Homo sapiens: one gene and its partner. The protein of the gene in region 1 interacts with the protein of each later gene in a pairwise test. Each region holds a gene or a part of one and is shown in the gene's direction. Other genes may lie near its edges.

Region 1 (3,912 bases):
GCAGTGGCACAAGCTCTGCTCACTGCAAGCTCCGCTTCCCGGATTCACACCATTCTCCTGCCTCAGCCTCCCAAGTAGCTGGGACCACAAGCGCCTGCCACCACCCCCGGGTAATTTTCTGTATTTTTAGTAGAGACGGGGTTTCACCATGTTAGCCAGGATGGTCTGGATCTCCTGACCCCGTGATCTGCCCGCCTCGACCTTTCAAAATGCTGGGATTACAGGCGCGAGCCTCCGAACCCGGCCGATTAATTTTCTTTTAAAGCAAAGAACAGTAGAAACTTTATTCGATTTTCTATTTTCTCCCAACTCCCATTCTCTTTTGTTTTTGAAGAACAGCAGAATGAAATGAGCTCCAGGACCCATCCAAGTAGGATATGATGGTTTGAACAGATTCCAGCATGGAACAAAGTTTCCATATTTTGCCTGAAGTCTTTCATTCATATGATTCTTCTAATGCTTCCTGGAAAATTCCAAGAACTTGATGTGAAATTATGCTTAACAGAACACCCAATTGGCCTATGGCAGGTGCATTAGTCCATTCTTGCACTGCTATAAAACAAAGAGGTTTAACTGGCTCACGGCTCCGCAGGCTGTACAGGAAGTCCGACGGCTTCTGCTGGGCTTCTGGGGAGGCCTCAGGAAGCTTACAATCATGGCAGAAAGCCAAGGTACAGCAGGCACGTCTTATATGGTGGGAGGAGTGGGGCGGGGGTGGGGGGGCGCCACACACTTTTAAAGAACAGATTTCACCAGAACTCACTATCACCAGAATGGCAAAAACAGGGAAATCTGCCCCCATGATCCAACGACCTCCAACACTGGGGATTACAATTCCACATGAGAGGTCAGGTGGGGACATAGATCCAAACCGTATCAGCAGGGTTAGAATAACTTTTTTGTTTTCCTCCTAAGTGTTGGGCTTATTCGTAGGGAGAGTATGGTAAGCCAAATAAAACTATAGTATACATAGTATTTTTCATATAGTATACATATTTTTATATGTAATATGAAAATAATGTGTCCAAAGGAAGGTGAGTGGAAACTACAGCAAAATACCAGAGTCTTTCTTTAGAAAAGGACAGCTTCTATTTTGATGTAAGAGTATGGCTCCTCATTAGCCCTAACTTGGACTACAGAATGACTTCTTCTGAGCAGAGCTTATAGGAGAAAATTTTGATAATAAATCAGGACTGATGACGTTTTTGTTTTTTGCCTGAGAATTTTCTCAGAGTTTCTCTGAGAAACTGTATCACAAAATTCCTATTAGATTGCTCTTATGTAGACAACTTGAAATTATTGGCAATTTCCAATTTAGCAAAATGTTGGCTATAATAACTTAGTGAATTACGACAATAACCCGTTTCTCTTAGGTTTCTGATATTTAAGTGTCCTTACAGGAGAAAGATGAAGTTATCTTATAATTGTCCAGCTCAACTGCTCATCTTCTTAGCATAAACACTGATTTGGAAAATACTTTGCGTATCACACGTAGGAGCCTGGGAATGTTCTCATCCGAACTAAACAGTGGTTAAAGGTTTTTCAACAAAGTTCTTGCTGCAATATCTGTTTTCATACCCAATTACTCAAACCAGGTCCTCTTCCTCTTTGCTTCCTCTCCTTGCAATGCCCTTCCCTCTCTTCCCTAAACTGGAGAACTTACTTATGCTTAAGATTCAGCGCAATTGTCACTCCCAGGTGAAGGCTTTCTCAACAAGGCCTCCCCGTCTGCTCCCAGAGCTCATGGCAAGCAGCTCGGCTTTTATCAGAGAATAATGGGATTATCTATTTTCCTGTAGGTCTTGCCCCGGGGGTGTAAGCTTCGAAGGCGGAGACTGTGTCTTTTACATTTTTTCCCGTTTTTATTGCCCAGCCAGCCCATGTAGGTGACTCTCGGTGTTTCCTAGGCGGCCAAACTGAAGGAGTTTCAGCTGGCACAGGGGTTCCCGCCAACCGAGCGTTTAAAAATAAGCAGCGGGGGACGTTAGGGAACAGAGGGTGTCCCTCACGACGACCGACTCTCATCAGGTCCACGCCGGCAGAAGCGATTTTGCAGTTTGCTTTGATGAGGAAAACGCTCTCCCTGAAGAGTCCCTGCACTATTTCTCCAACTCTGTGACCGAGACGCTGTCCACTTTTCTCTAACGGTGACAGGAAGTCAAGGGGAAAACGTGGGATTCAAAGGTTTGAAGGTAACAGCCCTCAGCCACTCGGGCTCGAGGCCCGCGGTTGACCCGAGCTGATGTCTGTGAGGAGAGGTCGCGCGGCGCCTTCCTCTCCACGCGCCTGAGATCCCACCCGTGGCCGCCGCGCCCTCAACTGCCTTCTCCTTCGGTGCCCCGCCCACCCCTGGGCGGAGAGCACCGTTCTCGCGAGAACGCTGCTGGCCTCGCCTCTTCGCATTGTGAGCTCTCGCGGTAAGAGGCTGAGGAGCCGGCCTGCAACCTGCCGGGGCGGCTCCGCTACGCGCAGCCGCCTCAGTGGCTTCCTCCACAGCCACCTCCGGAGGGATCTGGCTGAGGAGGAAGTGGAGGTGTCACTGGCCCCGGCCTTTGCCCCAATCTTGTGTGGGCACTGAAGGGGGACTACAGGTTCGAGAGTGAGTGGACTCAGCTGGGGAACTCGGCGGGGGCGGCGCGGGAGGCTGGGCTTGGCCGGGGCGAAAGAGGAAAGGGGCGGAGGGCGAATCTGGGCGTGAGAGCCAGGCTGCTGCGGCGGTGGTCTGGGCGGCCGGACCCTGCTCGGGTACCGTGGGTGGCGTTTTGGGCTCCGGCCACGAGCACCCAATTAGGAGAGGCCGGGATAAGACTTGAGTTTTGCGGCTGCTGCTTTTGGGTTGGGAGTCCGGGGGCCTTTCTCCGGGGATGAAGGCGATACCCTCATCCCTTTCCAGGGCAGAGGAACCCCGTGCCCCGCCCCTTTCCTGTCATCTCAGACGAACGCAGCGACATCCTGAGGAAGGCGCATCACAATAGGGGATAAGGTGGTGGGCAGCCTCCCTCTGGGTGAAGAGGAGTGAGACCCCACTAACGTGCTGCGTGGTTTTATGTTGTAACCATTTTACGTGTGGTAAAGCTTTGTTTTCTTAAAACTTGCACGGAAAAGGTTCTGATGTCTTTCTTCTTCAGATGCAGGTGCCCTGACACCCTTATCTTTGGGAATGGGGCGGGGGAAGGTGAGACATCGGTTAGTAATTTGTTAGTGTGGGCCAGTGTGACTGTCCCTGGGCCTCACAGATTTCCTGCTTCTCCTTTCTCAGTATTCTGAGTCCATGATGAAAAGTCACTAGTCCAGACATGCTGAAAGATAGAGCTTCACTTGCTTGTGGCTTTGTGCACTTAGTAAACAAGATTATTTTACGAAGATTTATTATCTTGCAGAGTTTTCATGCTTTTTATTTAAATTAGCAATCTAAATGAAACAGCACAGGATATTAATTGTATTTGGACAACTGAGTTCCTTCCCGCCCCTATCCTCCCAACCCCCCAACTACACAAATTTGATCAAAATCTTTTAGAGAGGGGGTTAGGGATAAATTTTCAATGAAAGAGACTGTGGAAATCGGAATAAGAGATATAATAAAGAATGCAGCCATAACGGCCAAAAGAGTTTCTGTATTAGAGAGCCTGTCCAGGATTGAAGTTCAGTCCTGAAACCCAGGACTGCAGTTGTCATTTGAATATAAAGCGGAAAGCAGTAGAAAATACTTGGGAAGGGATTTGAAAGTGGACCAAGACTGGTAAAAAAAAAAAAAAAAAAAGTGTGAGAAGAATTATTTCTGATGATGTAAATGTGTTTTATAAATTTTCCCAATATTTCTCAGCGTGTATGACCTAACAGCTATTATATTAATACATACAAAGTAGGAAGGAAGTTTCTGAAGCATGGAATGTGGTAAGGAACCACCAGAGA
Region 2 (3,912 bases), on another chromosome or scaffold:
GTGGTTGTCCCAGCTGGTGTAGATTTCAGGCCGCCTCCCCCCATCTCCCTGCCCACAGTGTTGCAGATTGCCTGGCTGGCAGCAAGTCCAGACCACCCAAATTTGGTTGGATTCTTCATTTCTCCACTGTAGTTGGGGTCCATTGATTGTGCAGGGGAACGTGCAGGAGGTTTTTCTAGGCACTGCGTTCAGTGCTGCTTCACTCTACCAGAGATTATGGCCAAATTGCACGGAATTTGGTTTCTTGCCCTCTGAAGCCTGAGGGCCCCCCCTTGCCTGGCTGGTTGACAGACCCGGGGTGCTCACTGCTGAGACTTCAGAGATCGCAGCTGCTGTGAGAATACGGTGAAGGTACTATGTTCTGGAAGATGTTGTCATACACTTTTCCCCAGTTATTTTCAAACTTGACATGAGCCTATGTTGACTCACTGGGTGGGGTCCCTTCTTACGCAGCACACGTGGCAAGTGCCTGAATCGGGGCTGGAGGCACTTCAGAGCCTCTGAGGGGCCACCACTTCTGGCCCAAAATTGCAGGGTTGTAGATGAGGCTGCCTGTGGAGAACTGGTGTGAGGAGGAAGCTGTTTCCAACAAAGAGCACTTTCATCTGTTGAGATGGCTGTGGTGAGCAACTGAACGAGCCTACGTGTGTACCTGAATTTTCCCCATAACTCATTTCTTCCATATGAAGAAACACCAAACTATGTACAGAGAACTTTTTACAAAAGGCAGACCTTTTTTAAGCTGTGTAACCCACATAGCCTAACCGTCTGGCAGAATGACTACGAATAGGGGTCATTGTGCTGGTAAAAGCCTCTATTACGACTGTTAAGTTGGATGTTGGCAAAATTAAATTGTTACAGTATTTAGAGCTGCTGTAGCTGTTCCTTCACAACATGAAATAGGATAAATGACTAGTACGTCTTTCAGGTGGGTGGCAGTCAGAACATGCGTAATATTCTCTACCTGGTCTGTAGCTGTAACTGTGATGTACAGACAAAGCAAAAATTAAAAGAACTCATGAAAACAAATAATACAATGGTATTAGGATATACACTTTTGTGTTTTTAATCTTATAGAAGGTTATTTGCTGGCTATTGTTGGCCTCTAGTTCAGCCTGTTATTTAAATTCTTTTTTTTTCTTGAGACGGAGTCTCACTCTGTCGCCCAGGCTAGAGTGCAGTGGCCTGATCTCGGCTAACTGCAACCTCCGCCTCCTGGGTTTAAGCAATTCTCTGCCTCAGCCTCCGAGTAGCTGGGATTACGAGCGCCCACAACCACATCTGGCTAATTTTTTGTATTTTTGGTAGAGACGGAGATTCACCATCTTGGCCAGGCTGATGTTGAACTCCTGACCTCGTGATCCACCCACCTTGGCCTCCCAAAGTGTTGGGATTACAGACATGAGCCACCGCGCCCGGCCTAAATTCTAATATATGAATTATTTGTATTGAATTCATGTTCGGGGCCACGTTGTTATATGTATTGATATACAGCCTTGAATGTGAATAATTACTATATATTTTACAACTTTTTTCTGGCTTTATTACAAAAACTTTCTTTTTTTTTTTTTGAGACAGACTCTCGCCCTATCACCAGGCTGGAGTGCAGTGGCGAGATCTCAGCTCACTGCAACCTCTGCCTCCCGGGTTCACGCCATTCTCCTGCCGCAGCCTCCCGAGTAGCTTGGATTACCGGCGCCCACCACCGCGCCAGGCTAATTTTTGTATTTTCAGTGGAGACCGGGCCTCACCATGTTGGCCAGCGTGGTCTCGATCTCCTGACCGCCTGATCCTCCCGCCTCGGCCTCCCAAAGTGCTGGGATTACAGGCGTGAGCCACCAGGCCCCGCCCTTATTATATAAATTTTCTATTGGGTCAATGATTTAATCATATAATTTAATGAATCTGTTCTTTTTTTCCCCCCAAATATTTGTGCTTTAGGTGTAGTTACCAGATGATGAATTTTCCTCCTATGCTCCGTAGTCTTGTAATAAAAAGCATGTACAGTGTAGACGTTTGCTGGCATGGCTCTTCCTTTGACCAGTTCATGAACTGGAGTCAGGGTGGGGGTGAAGGCTAGGGTCGAGGTCTGGGTCAGGCGCTCGTGCACCGCTCGTGGGAGGTCGAGGCTGATGTCCGCTGCTCCCCATCAGCGTTAGTGCCCAGATCACCCCGTGCTCCGCTCCCGCCGGAAGCGGGCCCAGCCTCCTGCTTTTCGGGACCGGAACTTCCGCCTACCGCGTGACGCCGGGGCGGGCGCTCTACCAGGGCGGACCTGTGGGCGGGACAGAACTCAGAGGACGCTATTAAAAGCCGGACGCTTCCGGTGGAAGGGAGCTGTTGCGGGGCTTGCTGGGATCATGGCGGAGAATCACTGCGAGCTCCTGTCGCCGGCCCGGGGCGGCATCGGGGCGGGGCTGGGGGGCGGCCTGTGCCGCCGCTGCAGCGCTGGGCTCGGCGCCCTGGCCCAGCGCCCTGGCAGCGTGTCCAAGTGGGTCCGACTCAACGTCGGCGGCACCTACTTCCTCACCACTCGGCAGACCCTGTGCCGGGACCCGAAATCCTTCCTGTACCGCTTATGCCAGGCCGATCCCGACCTGGACTCAGACAAGGTGAGGGCCTCACGGGCCAGCCCGGAGGGTCCTGGCCTTCCCGGCCTGCGGCTCCTGCACACGCCCTGCTTCGTGCGGAGGAGACTTCAGCGGGAGCGGGCGACTCTCCTCGGGCTTCGAGCCCCGCGCTCCCTTGTCGCCAGCTCCTCCCCAGCTTGCCCCGATCCCCTACCCTGGGAGGGGAGGGTGAGGATGGCGCCCTGGCGTCCACTGCCTTTGAGGATCCTGAGTCGATTCACCTTGGGGGTGTCTCTTCCTCGCCCTCTTTGCTCTTTGGTGGAGGAGGCTTCCTAGACCCCGGACTTTGCTGTGATTCTACTTTCTTTTTCTCACTAGGTTCTTTTGCCCAGGGTGTGTGAACGCCTTCTCTTCTCTGTCCCAGGGTACTTGCTGGCTCTGGAAACAGAACCCTTGGCGTTGTTTCACATTCTGGACGTTTGAATTAACGCTGACGTGGGGGTTGATATGGGCGGCCCTTTTTTTCCCTGGTGACTTGCATTTAGAGAGTTGGCGCTCCATCCTTTCCATCCACAGCACGCAGCACCCACTCAGCACCTCTTAGAAGATGCGTCCGTAGTATATAGTATGATTTTTCGAAGGGGATTTTGCTCATATTAAGGGTTGCTTTAGGGATGTCCAGGAAGGGTCAGGTAAGGAATCTTTCAATCTGCTTTCTAATTGGCTTAGTTTTCCCACTGTCTTCGCAAAAGGACAGGAATTTCCAGGTTAGTTTGCAGCTTGTCTTTCATCAAGCGAAATGCTCATGCTGTTGGGTAGATGGTAATAGAAACCTTTTGCTACCTTTATTTATCAAGAGTTGTGGAGCCGAGGAACCGTGTCTTGGGAGTTGTGCAGGATTGAAACTCACAAAAAAGCCTGTTTGAAGAAGTTGTTACCTATATTTATTCAAGGCAGTTCACAAGCCTTATACTAACTTTGCGGGGTCTTTCAGTTGAGCTTACATGACTGCGCTTGGCTTTGTGCCTTGGCAGCCAACATTTGCCATGCAGGAGGCTTCCCAGAAAGGTTCGGATCCCTCTTCAAGTTTGAGAAGCCTGACTGAGACCATTCTCAGCATGGCATGACCGTGATCAGGAAGTGAGAATCTGGAGTTACTGCTAAGGCAGCCTTGTGGGTGGAAATGAGGGTTTGAGATGCCAACCCTCCTGTGCCTCCCCACAACTTCCAACTGTTTCCATTGCTCATTTGACCAAGCCCTCTACTCAGAGAATTGACCTCCCAGGAAATGACAGTCATCCCCAGGATAGAAATAGGCGTTTGTTAGCTGTGATTTTCCTTT

The links.
Region 2: the proteins of BTBD10 (region 1) and KCTD5 come close enough for resonance energy transfer, tested with the Homo sapiens proteins (one study listed by BioGRID).

Annotation. Positions count from the first base shown.
Region 1 is NC_000011.10:13,461,779-13,465,690, reverse strand, and holds the start of BTBD10 (BTB/POZ domain-containing protein 10), read left to right. Parts: upstream 1-2,468; 5' UTR 2,469-2,599; intron 2,600-2,701; exon of another isoform or gene 2,702-3,069; intron 3,070-3,912. UniProt on the Homo sapiens protein: Plays a major role as an activator of AKT family members by inhibiting PPP2CA-mediated dephosphorylation, thereby keeping AKTs activated. Plays a role in preventing motor neuronal death and accelerating the growth of pancreatic beta cells.
Region 2 is NC_000016.10:2,680,189-2,684,100, forward strand, and holds the start of KCTD5 (BTB/POZ domain-containing protein KCTD5), read left to right. Parts: upstream 1-2,334; 5' UTR 2,335-2,360; coding exon 2,361-2,612; intron 2,613-3,912. UniProt on the Homo sapiens protein: Its interaction with CUL3 suggests that it may act as a substrate adapter in some E3 ligase complex. Does not affect the function of Kv channel Kv2.1/KCNB1, Kv1.2/KCNA2, Kv4.2/KCND2 and Kv3.4/KCNC4.